Linked DNA regions of Homo sapiens: region 1 is linked to region 2. A link means that fine-mapping ties the variant in region 2 to the plasma level of a protein whose gene starts in the linked region. Region 2 holds a variant in brackets. A gene starts in the other region. All regions are shown on their reverse strands.

Region 1 (10,677 bases), not on the chromosome of region 2:
AGACATTGGCCGGATGACTAACGTTGGCCAGGATAAACAGGATACTCCCGCTAGCCCACGCCTTGGGTGGGCTTCAACCCCAAGGCTAGCTGCCCGAGGCCTTAGTCACTATCACTGCCTCGGGTAACCCATATTCATTTTGACTCAAACATTTTATTTAGGCTGTCCAGTCAGATAGCTGTGTAATGTTGTAGTAGTATTCTTGAACACCTCAGGTTAAACATAGGGGAAGACATTCAGTCATTGTGAAGAAAACTTAGAAGAGAAATGTAAGAAAGCTTCAGGTAAGATGTTTTTGTCCAAAGTCCAGGGCTTAAAGGTGTCAAATTGAAAAGGAGTAAAAGGAGAAGACCTGGAGTTAAATATTAACTCTACCTGTCATTAATATTGTCACTCTGGGAAAATTAATGCCATCTTTAAGGTTCAGTTTCTCTGCCGTAAAATGGGAAACCTATGACCTTCCTTAAAGGAGAAGCTGGAAGATTAAATGAGAAAATATTAATATATTTTAATGAATCTACAGTTCCTGGGACATAGTAGGTGCTTTTAAAGATAAATTTAAGCAAAAGTAATTCTCCCCTCACTTTAATTTTCCTTGGTTTGCCTTGGTATAACTATAAATCTTTTTGAGTAGCCTGCAAGAGGAAAACATGGCTTTTTGTCCTCCTAATTTCTTGTAGGACAATTCAAAGAAGATTTAGATGATGAGAAAGAAGAGAAGGTGGTACAGAGGATGAGGGAAACACAAAGGGAAATTGTGCTGATAAAAACAAAATTTGGGAAAAGAAAATGATCCCTTAAGAGTGTTGCAAGTCTGCTTTAAAAGAAAACAAGCAGATTTATTACTGCAAAGATGATAAGGAAAGCAAATAGTAATAATCATAATAGAAAGGGGGGTCTGTTGATCTATCTTGAACTTCAAAAGCAGTTGAGGATACTTTTAATATTAGATTAGTTAAGCCATATTTTCCTTTCTTCTAGCCAGCCAGCAATACTTTTTGATGTTCACTGTTAAGTAGTGGGCTGAGACTATCCACCTCTTTTACAAAGGCTAGTAGCCAAGGAAAGGACTGCATTTGAAACAATGATCACAAAGTGAAAGGCTCCTTCTCCCATGACCTTTGAAATAAGAAGGTCACTATCTGAGAAAGGAGGGTCTGTAGCTGTGTCTTGACCTCTTTACTATGATTTGTCACAATGGGGACAACAGCCTTCATATCCTACAAATGATTTCAAGAGAGAGAAAAATGACACCTTATTGACTCTAAGATATGGACAAAGATAGTGTTGCTGTCCATGTTCTTAGGGGATACCCCTTGCTCTCCAGATTGTTTCACATTCCACCAGTGTGACTCAATAGAACAGTATGAGTTTGACCATCTGTTCTTGGCTAACAACAATATTATTTCCTTAGTGTTTACAACTCAGTTATGTACAATAGCTATTTCTTTTTACCTTGACACTCCGCTTAGGACTGCACTTTGCCTCTTTCGAGGCTGTTAGCATGATAACAACCAAATATTGAAAAGTAAAATATGAATACCTGCACCTATTGAAGGCCTGGGGATTTATTTGGTTTCCTTGAATTCCATGATATTCCTGTATACTTGCCCTAGCCAGTGATTTCCAAACTCTGTCCCCTCTTCTTTTTGATTACCATTAGAGCTTGGTTTTTCAAACTATGGCAATAACAGATACAATAGTACTGCTCTAGTTGAGCAAGTTTAGAAAGAAGAACCTGTTCATTATCTCTTTTGCCAGCCACGAAGACATCTCTGATATGAGGCTAGGAAACTTGTGCTAGTAATTTTTTATCACAGAAGCACACTGAAGATGAAAAAGTCTTGCCATCATTATCTATAATAGCTCAGAGAATTTCTAAAGCAGTAGGGGGATCAAGACAGAAGCCAGTGGCGATTCCTCATGTAAGGAAAAGGAAACTGAGGGGCAGAGAAGATTTCTAGATCAAGGTTGTACTGTTTATTAGTGGTAAAGCCAGACTAAGCCCCTGACCTCCCATCTCCCAGTGAAATGATCTTTTGTTGTGGTGGTTCAAAGGTTACTAGGGCTTCTCTTTCTTTACGGCTGTTTCTGGCTAGTTACTCCCTCTGAGTTCAGAGTCAGACAAACACTTCTAAGATTTTGGAAAATCTTAGATTTCAATAAGGAAATAGCAGCTTTACTTCAAAGGAAAAGGCCACAGAGAGCCAACTAAAGTCCATTTCTGCAGGTCACACTTCTCTTAACTCCCCATCCTCCAGATCCATTCCCCAGGAAAGTCAGACTGACAAAGTGTGTCTTCTTCTAGAGCAGAGCCTTAGCAAAACCCTCTACCCTCAGCCTCAGCAGGTAAACCCTTCTCAGATTAGCAGCTGATACACTGGGGAGGTAAAAGTTACCTGATGCTAGAAGAATAAAATGTAATGAAAAGTGTCTCATTTCTTGGTTGGAAAAACAGAGTATTGATATATATCTTCATAACCTAGAGATAGCAAGGTCGTATTTCTCAAGATGAGGTAGTGGGAAAAGTGGAAAGAGAAGAGGATGACTCTAAGACAGACTACTGACTTCATTTATTTATTTATTTCTTTTTTTCCTAACACAGTCTTTATTCCTGCTGTGGTCTGTGGACGTTTACTTTGACTACTAATGATATCTCCAGTCCTGCCATATATATATATATATATATATATATATATATATATATATATATATATATATATATTTGTTACTTGTCAGCCATTCTCAATACACAATGAGTATTTAGGTAGAAGAAAGCTTTCTGAACTTCAGGAAATCATGCTCAATTATCTGCCACTAAAATACTGAAATGTTCCAGGAAAAGTCTTAAAATAACTTTGCACATATGCCTCTGTGTGTGTGTGCATGCACGTGTGTGTGTGTGTTAGGATCAAAACAGAAAAATAAAGAGCAAGAAAACGTAGATTTTTTTTTTTGGTGGCAAAAATATGTCCCCATGGTTCCCGCCCCTTTGAGTGTTAAGTGGCTAGCTAAAGGAGTAGGTTGCTTTAAAATCTTATTTCACTTAAAAACATTTAGTAGTGACACCCCCTCCCCCAAATTATCATTGTTAACCACCAAGTGTATTCTTTAGTAAGAATTTGTGGTAATACTCTTCATGCATGCAGCAGCAATGGGCACTCCTTCTTAAGGTTTAAGAAAACATGAAAACCACAAAGAATGTCTGAAATTATTTTCTCTTGGTTGGCGGAACAGATGCCTTTCATCAAGGAAAATGCCTTTGGCCAAAACAAAGCCATATTCATTTAAAATATATTGTTTAGTAATTGCACAGACTCTGGATTATATAAAATTTACTTTCAATGCAAAGATTTCATTTTTCTAGAAAAGGTTAACAAGCAAAATAGAGCAGGAAGACAGGCAGAGGATAATGTGTTAAAAGAATCAACTACGTCAAGGGCAAGAGCAGTTCAAGAAATGACAATGCAAGTACATTGAAAGGAAATTGGCCAATGTGGATGTGATTTTGTCTAGGGGTCATTCAGGAACACCTGGCTGACTTTATTTATAAGGCGATTGTCAAATCAATCTGTAGAATATGGATGAGGTGAAACGCAGAGGTAGAGTATTATTCTAGATCATCTGTAACTTTTCAAATACAACTATCGCACTGAAATTCCAGGGAGAATGTAAGTGACTCCAATAAAGAAACCTGTCAGTCAGTCAAGAGTGTTTATTTATTATCCCCCTGTGCCAAGCAATATTCTAGCCAATATGAAATGATACAAAATAAAGAGTAGTCATCACCCTTCCAATCTCCTGAGAGCAAATGGATTACATTTGCAGACACACACACACACACACACACACACACACACACACACACCCCACCTCTATGTGGGTGGTCAGGAAACTCAACTATATGGACATATAACAATTTCATTTAGAAAAGTGCTGATTAGAAAACTAAACTTACAAAATTAGAAAAACTGGAGAATAATGAATTTTATGAAAAATAGATTACAATGGATTCATAAGGCATGCCCTTTATTTAAGTCCCATTATGTTATTAAAATTGGGAATAACCCTTCACCCTCACAAATTTACAAAATATTTTTGGAACACATTATGCAAATATGGAGTCACACTGGTGTTGTGGAGCTGCTAACTCGAATAAAATACCATACTTGATAAAAAACCTTCTGTCCACTAAACTGTAAATGCCTTAAAGTCAAAGATCAGGCCTTATTTGCCTTTAGTGTATATTTAGTACTCTGTAGATAGAAGTGGTAAAGGGATAAGAATGAATGAATGAGACAGGCGGGTGAAATTTTCAAGAATGAGACAGATGGGTGAAGTTTTCAAAGGTTTCTAAAAGGGAAAAACAAGAAGACTAGGATATTCCAAGCAGAAAGGTCTGGTTGGTTGGCCCCAGTTGGTGTTCGCATATAAGAAGAGGGCTTGGCATTTTCCTCACCACTGAAGAAGGATCAGCCCCTGGTTTGGTCCAGTAAGAATATGTTCTTGCCCAAATGCCACTCCTTAGTTTCAGGGACATTGCTATTTTGGTTTTCTGTTCCAGCCCAAGTGTTCTTGATGGTCGAATTGTTTGCATTGACTTTTTTTCCACAAGAAGTTGGGTGATATTGCTGATTTGCCTGCCATGGCACTTCCTTGTTTTCATTTTGATTATTACTCAAAAATAGCTTCATTTTAAAATTCAACTTTTCTGACTCTCTGCTTGTGCCTTTAACACATTGACAATGATTTTCTGCTTCTCCACAAAGAAAGCACGTTGGATCCTGTCACAGACATATTTAGCAGACATGGAACCACCATAAGCCCTGCTTGGCATGTGTGTTTCATTTCAGACTACCTCATGAGAACTTTAGGTCTTAAAGCATCGGCCTCTCTCTCCAAGTCAGCCTGAACACAAGCCACAAGAGATTTCAGTTCTTTCTCGACCTTTTTGGTGTAAATGTAAACAATTCTATCACCAGGGGTTCAGGGCAGCCTAGTTTTGTTAGAGGCTGTATTGTAGGAAAGTCCAAGGTTGCAGGATCATTCTGAGTCCCTTAGACACCATTCTCAGAAGAGCTTGCTATTAGCTTAATGCTGCCCAACTACTACGTATGCTTCACGAGGGCAGGGACTTTTGTCTGTTTTCACTGCTACGGCTCCAACCTCTAAACAGTGCCCGACATAGTAGGCATTCAGTAAATATAGTACTTGTTAAATGGATGTTATTTTGGCTGCCTTTACTTTTGCTTTATTTGTCCTGCTTTACGGAGCTGGAAATTGGAGGAAAGCCTTTGAATTCATTTCCCTTCTTCCTTCTGTTCTGAAACTCTGGCCAAGGGTCCTAGCAAAGACCTTAGGGAGTGGGGAGCCCTCCTGGAAACTAATGACAAGTCAGGCGACAGGGGGCGGGAGAAGGAGAGCTGCAGGAAGTTCTTTCCCACTTACTTCTGCAGCACCCTTCACCACCCATCGTGCTCTGTATTTGGGGTTAGAGGTGTTCCGTGGAAGGGAAAGCAGGGGCCGCCTTGGCCGCGTTCCTCTCCTGGGCCACCGGGGTCTTGCCCACAGCGAGTCCCGCAGCACCCCCTGTCTGCGCAGCACCTGTTGACAGCCAGTGGGCGGCCAAGCCCGCTCGCGCGGACGCGTCCCAGGGCTGCCCCTCCCAGAGGCGCTGACCCCCGCCCGCCCCATCGGCCGCCTGCGGGAGAGCCGCTGAGCCGCCCCCGCTCGCCAGGCGCGCGCTCCGCCCGGGCTCGGCCCACGGCCCCCACCTCCTGTCTGCCGCCCGGCGGGGGGAAGGTAGAGAAGGGGAGGGGACAAGCCGGATCCTCCCGGCCGCCCCGGCCTTCCCTCTTCACCCCGTGCGGAGACGCCGCGCGTAGCCCCGAGGTTAGCGCGGAGCCCGAGGCGTGGGGGGAGGGGACGGGGAACAACCGGAGCCCCGCGGTGACCCCGAGCGGCCGAATTGCCCCAGGCTTTGAGGAGCGGGGGACGAGCCCGAACAAGGTGAACTTTGGTCGCGGAAAACTCAAGCCAGGTGCCGGAATCCGTGCTGCGGCGCTCCGAACCCGGGGCCAACTGCGCTCCGGGCTGAGGAGCGGGAGCCCCGCGGCCTCTCTCCGCCTGCGCCCGGGCCGCCGTCGGCCCGGAGCCCCCCGGCCCCGCTCCGGCGCCCCGGCCCGTGGGACCCGCCGCGGCGCCCTCGCCTTGTTTCTTCCCCCTCCCCCTTCGGGGGTGGGGGGTGGGGCGGGGGAGAGGGGCGCCCGGAGAGCCGCATCTATTGGCAGCTTTGTTATTGATCAGAAACTGCTCGCCGCCGACTTGGCTTCCAGTCTGGCTGCGGGCAACCCTTGAGTTTTCGCCTCTGTCCTGTCCCCCGAACTGACAGGTGCTCCCAGCAACTTGCTGGGGACTTCTCGCCGCTCCCCCGCGTCCCCACCCCCTCATTCCTCCCTCGCCTTCACCCCCACCCCCACCACTTCGCCACAGCTCAGGATTTGTTTAAACCTTGGGAAACTGGTTCAGGTCCAGGTTTTGCTTTGATCCTTTTCAAAAACTGGAGACACAGAAGAGGGCTCTAGGAAAAAGTTTTGGATGGGATTATGTGGAAACTACCCTGCGATTCTCTGCTGCCAGAGCAGGCTCGGCGCTTCCACCCCAGTGCAGCCTTCCCCTGGCGGTGGTGAAAGAGACTCGGGAGTCGCTGCTTCCAAAGTGCCCGCCGTGAGTGAGCTCTCACCCCAGTCAGCCAAATGAGCCTCTTCGGGCTTCTCCTGCTGACATCTGCCCTGGCCGGCCAGAGACAGGGGACTCAGGCGGAATCCAACCTGAGTAGTAAATTCCAGTTTTCCAGCAACAAGGAACAGAACGGTGAGTCTTTCCCCCATTCTCCCCCTGCTTGTTTCTCGCTGTGTGTGTTAACGTTGGCATTGTGCGTTGGTATGTGATATATACCAGACTGTGAAGGTATCTTTGGTCTCTCATTACATGCAAATGTGCGCTGCGTTCATTGGCATGGACTGTTAAAGGTTAAGTGTAGTTTGCAACTTCGGGAGCTGCCACAAAGCTCCAAGAGGGCAACGTGAGTGCCACTGCTGAGTGAGGACATTCTGGGAGCGATTGTGAACGTCATTTCAAATGCACATTGCAGGTTCGCTCATTGCTAAAGTTAGAAGTTCAAGAACTGCCTCTAAAAACGAATCCAAAATGAATGAGCCTTGGCATGTTTGACTTTACTCAGATTTGGGGAGGGCGAGGGGGGTCGGTCAGGAAATATATCAGCCGCATTAATTGAAGCACTCTAGGTCGAAGTCATCAATTAATCAATGAGTAGATAGGAAATATAGAGGTCAAGAGGCTGTGTGGTCGTTTTTAGAGGAATTAAAAAGTGTATTTCTCTTGCTCCCTAGTTTTTGTTTTTTAAACTTGCCTTTGTACTCTGAAGTCCTTACCTTTCTGGTGGTGTGTTTTTGTATGTGTTGGTGAATGACTGCTATTTTGTGTGTGCTGGAAACGACTTAATCCTGCATAGGAAATGAGAATTACTTTCAGCTTTCAAGTGTACCTGAAATGTTTAGAAAACTCTCAGATGCAAGTTCCCTTGGGCTGGGATTGCACAGAGCTGGAGAAAGGCTCCTTTCATAAAGCCAGGGCAGCTTCAGGGTGTGTAATTTGCTTAGCCTCTGAACCCATATGATTTACATCATTCAATTTCTAAACTCTTTTTCTCTTCATCTACCATTATGAAGTCATTTTTGAGAATACTTTGTAAATAGAAATTTTATACTGCACATGAAACCACAATGTTCATGTTAGGCTGTCTAAAATTGGAATATTTAACGCCCTGTTTACAAATGGTGGCTCTTACTGTAATTTGAAAAGGAATATACATGTTTTTACTGCTTTGTATATCATCTATTCAGAATGCAAGGATTCTGTCACTTGATTAACCATGCAAAATGAACACAAGTGGCATACCTACAAAATTAAGATAGGATGTGCTATAGTTTTAAGTCAGAGTGATTTTTTTTCCTTTTCATATTGGGGTGTTTCAAGACTTCAACTTTGAATTTAAACTCTATGAAGTGTTCATGTTTAAGAAAGCACAGAAAGTTTTAGGGTATAAAAGTAGATAAAATAAGGATTCTGCCGACTTTTGCAAACGTTATTTGTATTTGCTGTTGCGCAGCAAGACATAGTATCACATTTATCAGCTAATATTAGTGTGGTGCTTCTTACAACTTGCTAATGTGATGCCACATGGCACCTGCAGGCTCCTTGAGCTGCTGATCAAAGGGCAGCCTAGGGATGTATCTCTAATCACAGTAGCTGCAGAGGTCTGGGGGAAAGTGATCAAAGGAGCCACAGCACCAGCTGTACCCGTGCAGGAAACACATCAGACCAACCTTTGTTCTTTCTCATGTAAAATAAATGTCCAGTTCAAAATATTGCTTCTTACTAGCCAAGCTCCTCCATAATGACAACAATGCACAATATTCCTGGCTTCCTGGCTTCTGTTTTTTATTGTTCCTGTCCCATATCATTTCTCCTATTGCCTTGTCTTATCAAGCCTCTCTTGGCATCTGCCCGAATCTCTTTGCTGACCTGTGCTTCTCTTTGTCCTTTCCTTTTAGTTCTCTCTTGTGATCCCCATGCTATCATCACTTTGTAAGGGTCCCAGAGCTGTCATGCAGCATGTGGTCATAGGCCACTTTACCCAAGTAGATTCACACCTCCAGGAGAGATGAGTTCATTAAGCCAGGCCACACACATTCTGTTGCCATCTGAGGCTGGGCCATTTCCATTCCTAAGATGCATGATGCTAAAAATTGCTGCTTGTTTCCTAATCTGTGGGTAGAGGATTAGGCTATGTTTGGGGGTTGGTCTATGTTAAGGATGGCAGCAGGAAGTAACTAGAAGTAGAGGAACTACTTGTAGTTTTTAGCCCAAGGAGAAGTGGCACTGGCCAGCACTAGGGGGCAATATAGAGCTATTTTCTTGCACATGCTCAGGTTGATTTTTATACGTAAATGTTTCAAGATTTGAGGGTAACAGGTGGGTGCTGAAGAAGATTCCCCTGGAATGTAACCAGATTTGTTAGAGCTACTACCATTACCGTTACTACTACTACTTCTACTTCTTCTTCTTTTTGTCTTTCAAATTTTCCATTATGTGGGTAATCTTTTGCCCACATACTGAATTATGATTGAATTTTGATTGCCCTGTTGCTGTCTCAATTTTGACAGTTGTACAGTCCTGTAAATACGAACCCTCCTTGAGGATACCACGTAGAAGATCCCATTGGCCCAGTTTGTGCATTGCATCGTTTTGTGACAGGTCTTCTCTAACTCTGAAATGTCCAAATTGATATATTATGACTGTAGCAGCTCATTCTTGTCTCCAAGGACCCCTCCTCATGATACTCTCTTTTCTTGAGTATTCTAAAGTCCCTAATGGTGATTACTCAATCAGGTACCTCGGGCTGCTCAGTTTTAATATTAACTTGGTATTTCAAGAGGAGGTAGAATTGGAAATTGATTGCTGTAGCCAATGCTGCATACATGGATTTAGACTGGATCATGTGGACATGGTTCAGAATTAGCTTTGAAGGGTTAGTGTCATTTACACTATTGTTAGGTATCTGGTTTTTGACCTACCATTGGATTGCAATTCTTGCCACTTTTACTGTACAAAGTTTTATCCTCTAATATTATAAGTTGACTTCATATACTATACTTAATTTTTAACCTTACTTCTGACCCTGTCTCACTTATGAAAACAAGAGTCTTCAGATTTAACTTGAGGAAAGAGATTAAAAGATAACATTGACTTGCTTGGAGGGTGTCTGGCCTGTATACTTGTTGTATGACCATGGTGAAAAATACTCATATTTTGTGCACACTGGTTTTAGATGAGAATGCCTATTGTGGAATGATTAAGTTCTGGGACGGTGCTTCTGAGTTGTAGCAGAAAGAATCATACACCCAGGAACAAAACAAAACCTACTTTGTCTGTTGCATACAGCACAAAGAGATGTCAATGACAAAGTTGTTGGTGGAGGAATGCCTCTTCTACCTGTGTTGTTGGTGAGTGATTTTTAGTTTACTCATAGATTAAGAGCATGCGTATCATTTTTTTCTCATTTTCTTTAGCCATTCTGAATTTTGATTTGGAATATGCCGCTCTTCGCTACGGTTGGTCTTATTAACATCAGTTATTGTATGTGTTCTTTTTCTCAAGGGCTTTTGTGGCATGTGGGGCAATTTACTTTGGTCTGCTGGTCGTGCCCTTTTGCCGGTATCTTGTGTTTATGGATTTTCCATCTCTTTTTATCAGTGCCAGCTTTCTCTTCCTACTGTCAATGCTCCTGTATCTAACAAAATTTAAATTAAAAATGGAAAATTAAAAAAGGTGCCCAGTCCCCTCGCCATCATTTTTAGGTGGCAGCTTCAAATCTCTGTTTTATCAAAAACAGATAACCACAATATTTAGAACAGTGTCCAAGAGTAAATAGGCTCTAACTGCAGACTAAAGGGACTTTCCTGTAAGTTTCCCTGTAAGTTTTATTGCGTGACCTTTTTGACATTTATTTTTGTTGTTTAAAGGCTTTTTTACAAAAAAAAAAAAAAAGAAAAAACTTCCTCCTGGTTCTCTGCTGTTTGAAATAGTTGAGGA
Region 2 (10,371 bases):
GGGGGTGGGAGGGAGGTTTTTCACCTCCCTTTTTGCACCTTTAATCTTGCATTGTGTGACTGGATGGCCTGTCTTAAAAACAATCAGCCGGATCCTGTCACTCTTACTCAGAACTCTCCAGTGGCTGCCTGTGGTAGGCAACCTCTAAGGTACCCCTGCCACCACGGATCTCTGCTTCTTCCTGGTCCGTGGATCTCTGCTTCTTCCTGGTCCGTGGATCTCTGCTTCTTCCTGGTCCGTGGATCTCTGCTTCTTCCTGGTCCGTGGATCTCTGCTTCTTCCTGGTCCGTGGATCTCTGCTTCTTCCTGGTATTCACAGCCTTAAGATCCCCTTAAGTGTCAGGTGGACCTCCTGACTCACTTTTTTTTTTTTTGAGATGGAGTTTTGCTCTCCTTACCCAGGCTGGGGTGCAATGGCATGATCTCAGCTCACTGCAACCTCCACCTCCTGGGTTCATGCAATTCTCCTGCCTCAGCCTCCCGGGTAGCTGGAATTAAAGGCACTCACCACCACGCCTGGCTAATTTTTTGTATTTTTAGTAGAGACGGGGTTTCACCATGTGGCCAGGCTGGTCTCAAACTCCTGATCCGCCCGTCTCGGTCTCCCAAAGTGCTGGGATTACAGGTGTGAGCCACTACACCCGGCATTTTTTCTTTTTCTTTTTTTCTTTTTTTTTGTTTTTGAGATGGAGTCTCGCTCTGTGGAAGTCTCGCTCTGTTGCCAGGCTGGAGTACGGTGGCTTGATCTCCACTCACTGCAACCTCTGCCTCCCAGGTTCAAGCAATTCTCCTGCCTCAGCCTCCCGAGTAGCTGGGACTACAGGCGCGTGCCACTACGCCCAGTTAATTTTTGTAGAGATGGGGTTTCACCATGTTGGCCAGGCTGGTTTTGAACTCCTGACCTCAAGTGATCTGCCCATCTCTGCCTCCCAAAGTGCTGGGATTACAGGCGTGAGCCACCAGGCCTGGCCTGCCCCCGGCCTTTTCTTTTTTTCAGAGTCTCGCTCTGTCGCCCAGGCTGGAGTGCAGTGGTGCAATCTCGGCTCACTGCAAACTCCGCCTCCCGGGTTTAAGCAATTCTCCTGCCTCAGCCTCCGGAGTAGCTGGGATTACAGGCGCTGCCCACTACGCCTGGTTAATTTTTGTATTTTTAGTATAGATGAGGTTTCACCATGTTAGCCAGGCTGGTTTCAAACTCCTGACCTTGGGTGATCTGCCTGCTTCGGCTTCCCAAAGTGCTGGGATTTCAGGCGTGAGCCACTGGGCCGGGCCACGTTTTTTTTCCCTAAGAGACAGGGTCTTGCTCTGTCACTCAGGCTCGATCACAGCTTACTGCAGCCTCCACCTCCTGGGCCCAATCGATCAGCCTACATCAGCCTCCCGAGTAGCTGGGACTACATGCGCATGCCACCATACCCAACTAATTAATTTTTTTGTAGAGATAGGGTCTCCCTCTGTTGCCCAGGCTGGTCTCAAACTCCTGGCTCAAGCAATCCTCCCTCCCTGGCCTCCTAAAGTCTTGGGATTACAGGCATGAGCCATGGCACCCAGCTTGACTCACTTCCAATGGAAGGAATGCAGCCAAAGTGATGGAATGTCATTTCCAACATGAGATTACTAAAAGATTGTGGCTACCATCTTACGTAACTCCTCTTGCTCCCTCACTGGCTCAGTCTGAGAGAAACCACCTGTTAGGTTGTGAGATGGAGAGACCCTATGTGGCAGGCAACTGATGTCTCTAGCCAACAGCTTTGTAAGTGAACTTGGAAGTGGATCCTTCCCCCGGCAGCCTCAGCTGACCCTCCGATGCAGCCTTGTGAGAGATGCTGATCCAGTGGCACTCAGTTAAAAAGTGCCGGGTTCCTGACCCATAGAAACTGTGACCCATAAATATCTTTTTTAAAAAGAGTTTATGGCCGGGAGTGGTGGCTCACACCTGTAATCCCAGCACTTTGGGACGCCAAGGTGGGTGGATCACCTGAGGTCAGGAGTTCAAGACCAGCCTGACCAATATAGAGAAACCCCATCTCTACTAAAAATACAAAATTAGCCAGGCGTGGTGGCACATGCCTGTAATCCCAGCGACTCAGGAGGCTGAGGCGGGAGAATTGCTTGAACCCGGGAGGCAGAGGTTGCGGTGAGCCGAGATCGTGCCATTGCACTCCAGCCTGGGCAACAAGAGAGAAACTCTGTCTCAAAAAAATAAAATAAAAGCTTAATTGGCCAGGAGCAGTGGCTCACGCCTGTAATCCCAGCACTTTGGAAGGCCAAGGCAGGCCAATCATGAGGTCAGGAGTTCGAGACTAGCCTCGCCAACATAGTGAAACCCCATCTCTACTAAAAATATAAAAATTAGCCAGGTGTTGTGGTGGGCACTTGTAGTCCCAACTACTTGGGAGGCTGAGGCAGGAGAATCCCTTGAACCTAGGAGGCAGAGGTTGCAGTGAGCCAAAATCGTGTCACTATACACTCCAGCCTAGGCAACAGAGCGAGACTCTGTCTCAAAAAAAAAAAAAAAAAAAGAGTTTAATTGATGTGAGGCTGGCCCACGTGAGAGAACTGGAGTTATCATTGAAATCAGTCTCCATAAATGTCATTTTAAGCTGCTAAATTTTGGGACAATTTGTTATGCAGCCATAGATAATTAATACACTTCTCATTACACTTAAAAAATAAAACCTCCTTGAGGCTGCAGTGAGCCATGATCATACCATTGCACTCCAGCCTGGGTAACAGAGCAAGAACTGTCTCCAAAAAAATAAATAAATAAATAAATAATAATTTAAAAAAACCTCCTGTAGTCCCAGCTACTTGGGAGGATGAGGTGGGAGGCTCACTTGATCCTAGGATTTCAAGGCCAGCCTGGGCAACAACATAGTGAGACTTAGCTCTACAAAAAATAAACAATTAAAATGTTAAAAACCCTATGTTCTTCCCCGTGGCCCACAATGGCCCAACTTGATCCGGGCCCTGCTTCCCTCTCCAGCGTTATTTCATGCCCTCTCCTTCTCATTCGGTGTGCACCAGCAGCCACACGCTGAGCTTCTTCCTGCTTCCATCAGGAGCTGCACTGTCCAACATGGTAGCACCTAGTCACATGTGGCTACTTAAATTAATTAAATTTGGCCGGGTGCGGTGGCTCATGCCTGTAATCCCAGCATTTTGGGAGGGCGAGGTGGGTGGATCACCTGAAGTCAGGAGTTCAAGACCAGCCTGGCCAACATGGTGAAAACCGTTTCTACTAAAAATACAAAAATTAGGCGGGTGTGGTGGCAGGCACCTGTAATCCCAGCTACTTGGGAGGCTGAGGCAGGAGAATTGCTTGAACCCGGGAGGCGGAAGTTGAAGTGAGCCAAGATCGTGCCATTGCACTCCAGCCTGGGCGACAAGAGCGAGACTCCATCTCAAAAAAAAAAAAAGACTGTATCTCAACAGTTCAACAGTCTGACTGGGGAAGCAACAGTACCACCAGCCAAGGTGTGAAGGATGGCAGGCTGGGTACCTTCTGATCCCCCCAACGTCTCCTTGAACAGGCAGTTCTGCAACCACATGAAATCTATGTCCCAAGTCCCTGCTAAAGAGGAAGTGGGGGCCGGGCATGGTGGCTCACACCTGTAATCCCAGCACTTCAGGAGGCCGAGGTGGGCAGATCACAAGGTCAGGAATTTGAGACCATCCTGACCAACATGGTGAAACCCCGTCTCTACCAAAAATACAAAAATTAGCTGGATGTGGTGGCAGGTGCATGTAATCCCAGCTACTCAGGAGGCTGAGGGAGAATCGCTTGAACCTGGGAGGCGAAGGTTGCAGTGAGCCGAGATCGTGCCATTGCACTCCAGCCTGGGAGACAGAGCGAGACTCTGTCTCAAAAAAATAAAAATAAAGAGGAAGGGGATTTGTGTGTGTCTGTGTGTATCCAGAAACCTGTGAGCAGGACTCAATGGTTTCTCATCCCATGGACCCACCGCCCAGCTGCAGAAAGACAGAAGCCAGGTCAAGGGGACACTGCCTTTCTGCTCTGGTCTACAGCAATTGGTGGAAGACAGCCAGATGTGCAAGAAGATCTGGGGACAAGTGTGCAGAAATTATAGAGAAAAATGTATCCACATTGGAAAGTTTCTTTGTACACCTCTATGGATTGAGCTCCAACCACACGCCAGGCTCTGCCTTTTCACATGCAATCCCATTCAAACACCTCAACAAGTCTACCAGACAGCATGAGTGCCCATCCCTCCCTACAGAGATGTGGCAATGCAGATTGAGAGAGGCCGAGCTCCTTAGCCGTCATCACACTGCGGGGCGGTGGCCAAGGTGGGAGTGGAAGCCTTCCTGACTCAAGTCCAGTGCTTCCCTACCCTGCTTCTAAGGTCAGTATTTTCCCGTCCTTTAAACTACTGACTTACCCATCATGATCACATGAAGGGGTTTGTTTTGTTTTGTTTTGTTTTGGGAACTTCCTGGTAACAGTGTATGAAGTCTGGCAGCATAAGTTAGGACTTTTGGTTGAAACTAAAATTAGCTCAGGCAAAAAAAGGAATTTTGGGGTTCAGGTAACAGAAAAGCATAGGTGGTGGTTCTGACTTCAAGCGTCTCTGGATGCTGGGTCTCAAATGGTGTCATTCAAAATCTGTCTTTTTCTTTTTCTTTTTCTTTTTTTTTTTTTGAGATGGAGTCTCACTCTGTCACCAGGCCGGAGTGGAGTGGCGCAATCTCGGCTCACTGCAACCTCTGCCTCCCTGGTTCAAGCAATTCTCCTGCCTCAGCGTCCTGAGTAGCTGGGATTACAGTTGCGTGCCACCACTCCAGGCTAATTTTTTTTTTTTTTTTTTTTTTTAGTAGAGACGGGGTTTCACCATGTTGGCCAGGATGGTCTCGATCTCTTGACCTCGTGATCCACCCGCCTTGGCCTCCCAAAGTGCTGGGATTACAGACGTGAGCCACGATGCCCGGCCTAAAATCTGTCTTTTTCATACCCTGGCTCCACTCTTTTTTTTTTTTTTTTTTTGAGACGGAGTCTTACTCTTTTGCCAGTCTGGAGTGCAGTGATGCAATCTCAGCTCACTGCAGCCTCTGCCTCCCAGGTTCAAACAATTCTCCTGCCTCAGCCTCCCAGGTAGCTGGGGTTACAGGCGCGCCACTACACCCGGCTAATTTTTTTGTATTTTTAGTACAGGCAGAGTTTCACCATGTTGGCCAGGCTGGTTTCGAACTCCTGACCTCAGATGATCCATCCACCTCAGCCTCCCAAAGTGCTGGGAATACAGGCGTGAGCCACTGCACCCAGCGCCCATACCCTGGCTCTGCTTTTAATCTTTATTATCTTTATTCTCAGGTAGGTTCTCCCTCTGAGATGTTAAAGATGGCTGCCAGCAGCTCCAGGCTCATTTGTTAGGAATGTGACAACCTCCATGGAAAGAGAAGGCCTCTAGCTTTATAATTCCAGCAAAAATCCTGGGGCTGCCTCTCACTGGTTCGATGTGGGTTAGGTGTTCTTTTTTTTTTTCTTTTGAGATAGAGTCTGGCTCTGTCGTCCAGGCTAGAGTGCAGTGGTGCGATCTTGGCTCACTGCAACCTCTGCCTTCTAGGCTCAAGCCATCATCCCACCTCAGCCTCCTAGGTAGCTGGGACCACAGGCGTGCACCACCACGCCCACCTAATTCAGGTGTTCATTTGAACCAATCGCTGAAGACAGAGGTGGTGTTCCGATTGGCCAGGTCTAGATCAAATGCCCACTCCACCCTCAGCCAAGGGATAGGGTAGGCTTTATTTTATGTATATTGACGCAGGGTGGGGAGGAGCGATTCCCCAAAGAAACAATGAGGGCCATTTCTAGAAGCAGGGAGAATGAATGGTAAACAGGAAATGATAGACATCCATCACAGGCTCTCAAATTATGTTTCACAGCTGTAGCTACCTTGAATTTTCTGGAAGTCAAAGAAGGGGCAGTAGAAATTGAGAGAGATGGAGAGATTTGAGAAATATTTATGTAGCCTGGTGCGGTGGCTCATACCTGTAATCTCAGCACTTTGGGAAGCTGAGGTTGAGGAGATAGCTTGAGCCCAGGAGTTTGAGACCAACCTGGGGAACACAGTGACACCTCACCTCTACAAAAAATTAAAAAATTAGCTGGGTGTGGTGCTGCACGTCTGTATCCCAGCTACTTAGGAGGCTGAGGTGGGAGGATTGCTTAGAGCCTGGGATGCTAAGGCTGCAGTGAGCCATGATCACGTCACTGCACTCTAGCCTGAGCAACAGACTGACACCCTGCCTCAAAAAAGAAAAAAAAGAAAAATATTTAAATAGTGGAATGAACAGAACTAGGTGGCTAAGTAGGCTGGGAGCATGAGGAAGAGAGAGCTCTTGGTTGCAAGCAACAGAAAATGACTCTAGCTGCTTCAACAAAAGGGAATTTACTTTGTGAGAAGGTCTTCGGGAGTTCACGGCATCAGCTCGAAGGAATAGGCTTGGAAATGTGCAGGAATTAAGAGCCACTGGAAGACTAGGAAGCAGGAAGTACAGTGATTTCCCTTGAGCAGACACGGAAGTTGTCCACCTAATATCCATGCCACCGCTCTTCCCTGTTTGCAGAGTCCCAGTTCTGTTCCAGTGGCCACTTTACCTCACATGCCTCTGACCCAGATCCAGGGTTAATAGGTTTAGGCCAGTGATGGGGATCCCCTTTTCCTTGCCAAACATGGCTTAGGGATGTCATGTGAGCCTGTTCTAGCTAAGAAAGCATGAGGAGAGGTCTGCTTGAGATTTGAGGGAGGGTTCCTCATTCCTAAGAAGGAGCTAGTGGAAGGGAAGGTGCCTCTTCTTTGCTTGAACATAATTGAGTTGAAGTGTGATTCCTGGAGCTGTGACAGCCATCTTGTGACCATGAGGGCAGGCAGCCTGAAGGTCTGCACACAGAAGACAAACAAAAAAAGAAAGAACTTGGGTTCTTGATGACATTGTTGAACCACTGAAAGCACTGTTCCTGGAGTCCTGCTGCTCCAGACATCTGGTGACATGGGATGATGAATTCGAATTGCCCTACTGCATATGCTTGGTTTTTGGAAGGCATCCTGACTTAATGCCATGTAGCCGGGATGATTTGGTCAGGGCACAGGTGGTGCAATGCCAGACCTCCAGCTTTTCCTGCCATCCTTGTGTGGCTTGATCAGGATTCAGAGCCCTGGGAGAAAACACTATTGGCTGAGTTTAGGTCCCTCTGGCTATACTATGGTAGGGAGAGGTTGGTCTGGTCCATTAGGCTTCCATAGTGGAGATGGTCTCTAGAAAGTACCCTTTCAGCCGGGTGTGGTGGCTCACGCCTGTAATTCCAGCACTTCGGGAGGCCGAGGTGGGCAGATCATGAGGTCAGGAGTTCGAGACCAACCTGGCCAACATGGTGAAGCCCTGGTCTCTACTAAGGAGACAAAAAATTAGCCGGGCATGGTGGCGTGGGCCTGTAATGGCAGCTACTTGGGAGGCTGAGGCAGGAGAATCACTTGAACCTGGGAGGTGGAGGTTGTAGTGAGCCGAGATCGCACCATGGCAGTCCAGTTTGGGCGACAGCGCGAGACTCCATCTCAAATAAATAACTAAATAAAAATAATAATAAAGTACCCTTTCACCACCACAGCTGGGGAGGGGTGATCACAAAATGAAACTGGGAGAGGAAGAGGAAGGGAGATGGATGTTGAACATCCAAATGACCATTAATGTCCACCTGACACCTCATCTCACACTCCCTACAAGGCACCTTATGCTCACCACATTCCCCATTTGACACGCTGCATTCAGG[C/GC]TTCTGTGCAGTTGTATTACTCACTCTGCCTGCAAACCCCTACTTGTGGCGAAGACCTGTTCAAAAGGCCCCTTCCATGTAGAGGAACAGCTGCCTTCTCCCCAAGAGGAAGGAGCCAATGTGGGAGTGGCCTTAGGGCCAGGGTCTATACTCAGGAGCAATCAAGAACTGACAGAGCCAGGCATGATGGCATGAACCTGTAATCCCAGCTATTCAGGAGGATGAAGCGAGAGGATCACTTGCGCCCAGAAGTTCCAGGCTAGCCTGGGCAACTTAATAAGACCGAGTCTCTTTGAAACAACAAAAAAGGTGACAAAGGTAGTTTCGCTTTAATGACTCGTCAATATATCTAATAGTTTCACTTTCATCATGGAGTTAACAGCTGTCACGTCAATGACTTTGAAACCAGTTACCTTTGAAACCAGTGGTTGGAAAGGTGCCCCTCCTCTCCTGCCCTCCTCTTTCTGTGTTTCTGTTCCAAGAAGTCTTCCACAGCCTGCCTCTCTTCCAGCAGAATTAATAAATTGCTACACTCAGTCTTCATTTCCCATAAATTACTTTGTATAACTTAGGACTTTGTATAACTGAAAGTGACAGAAGTCCACTCAAATTGGTTTTATTGGCTCATATAACTGAGAAGTCTATTTTTTTTTTTTTTTGGAGATACAGTCTCAGTCTGCTTCCCAGACTGGAGTGCAGTGGCACAATCACGGCTCACAGCATTTTGGACCTCTGGGCTCAAGCAATCCTCCTGCCTCAGACTCACAAGTAGCCGGAACTACAGGCACGCGCCACCATGCCTGGCTAATGTTAAATTTTTTTGGAGAGATGGGATCTCACTATGTTGCCTACATCAGTCTGGAACTCCTGGGCTCAAGTGATCCTCAAGTGATCCCCAGCCTCCCAGAGTGTTGGGATTACAGGCGTGAGCCACTGTGCCTAGCCATAACTGACCAAGTCTTAAGGATACTTCTAGTTTTAGGATGTAGGCTCTCAAAGTCATGAGAAATCAATCCATCAGTACTAGTTCTCAAATGTCGTGTAACAAATCACCCTAACTTGTGGCTTAAAGCAACAACATTTAATGATGATTTATCACAGTTTCTGATGGTCAGTTTTGCCTTGAGGTCTTTCATAAGATTGCAAGCCAAATGTCAGCGAGGGCTGCAGTATCCACTTCCAAGGCAGCTTATTCATGTGGCTGTCCAATTGGCACTGGCTGTCAGCAGGGTGCTTTCCTTTCTCCCTACATGGGCTTCTCTGCAGGGCTGCATGTGTGTCCTCACAACACAGTGGCTGGCTTCCTCCAGAGTGAGCAACCTAAGAGACCGAGGCAGAAACTGCAATGTCTTTTATGACCTGGGCTTGGAAGTCCAACACCCTCACTTCTGCCATATTTTTTTTTTTTTTGAGACAGTCCCTGTCGCCCAGGCTGGAGTGCAATGGCACAATCTCTGCTCACTACAACCTCCACTTCCTGGGTTCAAGCGATTCTCCTGCCTCAGCCTCACGGGTAGCTGGGATTACAGGCACACGCCACTACGCCCGGCTAATTTTTGTATTTTTCATAGAGATGGGGTTTGGCCAACACGTTGGCCAGGCCGGTCTTGAACTCCTGACCTAGAGTGATCTGCCTGCCTTGGCATCCCAAAGTGCTGGGATTACAGGTGTGAGCCACCACACCCAGCCACTTCTGTCATATTCTGATGGACACACAGAACAGCCCTAACTCAATGTGGGAAGACACCATACAAGGGCATGAATCCTAGGTGGTGAGGATCAATGGGGGCTGTCTTTGAGGCTGTCTACCACAGCATCTTTCCATCCTTCCTGCCCTGTTTGCTTTGCTTTTCCTATGTGTAGGCTTCATTCTCAAACAGGCCCTCCCTAGAGAGTGACAAAGGTGATCATCAATGTGTTCAGACCCACATGCTCTGTGCTTAGTAACCCCAGTGCAACTTTTTTGCTTTCCCAAAAGTTCTGGCAAAAGTCCCAAGCTAGCACTTTAATTGGCCTAAATTGTGTATATGCTTATCTCTGAACCAATCACTGTGGATTAGAGATGTCATGCTCTGATTGACCAGACCTAGGCCACATCTCTAGCCCTAGCTCTGAGGGTAGAGTTGGCAGCACTAGAGCCCATGGAAGAAGTAAGAGAGGAGTCGTTGCTAAAGGAAAAATCAAAGTGTCATTACCGAACCAGGACAGATGCTGGGCAGCACATGTGCACCCCGTCTTCTTCTCATGTTCCAGCTGCACATCTTAGTGCCCCTTGGTTTAGCACTTTTCTCATTAAATCATTTGCTTTCTTGCCTCACTTCCTGTGGTTGGTAGAATGCTAAGATGGCCCCAAGATCTCTACCCCTGGTGTTTGCACACCTCCCAGTTATTCTGTCAAACATGAATGTAGATGCTTCTGTGAAAGAATTTTGCACATGTAATTTAAGTCCCAAATTGTTTGACCTTAAAATAAGGAGAATGGCAGGGCCAGGCATGGTGGCTCATACCTGTAATCCCAGCACTTTGGGAGGCCAAGGCGGGCAGATCACGAGGTCAGGAGATCGAGACCATCCTGGCTAACA

Which allele goes with the higher level. Positions count from the first base shown, and alleles are read on the strand shown. Strength reflects both the effect of a copy and how common the allele is.
For the plasma level of the protein whose gene starts at base 5,860 in region 1, allele C in region 2 goes with a higher level than allele GC (weak association).

What was found. A credible set is the group of variants that fine-mapping cannot tell apart. PIP is the chance, under the fine-mapping model, that this variant and not a neighbour inherited with it causes the effect. The UK Biobank Pharma Proteomics Project read protein levels with antibody pairs (Olink). The fine-mapping took linkage between variants from a reference panel, not from the people measured, so its PIPs are less certain.
Region 1: PDGFC starts here. The variant in region 2 is the best candidate, but not a certain one, in a credible set for the plasma level of the PDGFC protein (UK Biobank, PIP 0.58).

Annotation. Positions count from the first base shown.
Region 1 is chr4:156,966,982-156,977,658 of GRCh38, reverse strand. PDGFC (platelet derived growth factor C) reads left to right here and starts at 5,860. Exons shown (of 6, transcript NM_016205.3): 1 at 5,860-6,873. The coding sequence starts at 6,756. RefSeq lists an enhancer at 5,573-6,073.
Region 2 is chr5:177,410,502-177,420,872 of GRCh38, reverse strand. No RefSeq gene overlaps it. Among named protein-coding and RNA genes, the nearest start is that of F12, 6.1 kb to the right of the region's middle. The variant C/GC (reference allele first, on the strand shown) is at 7,790.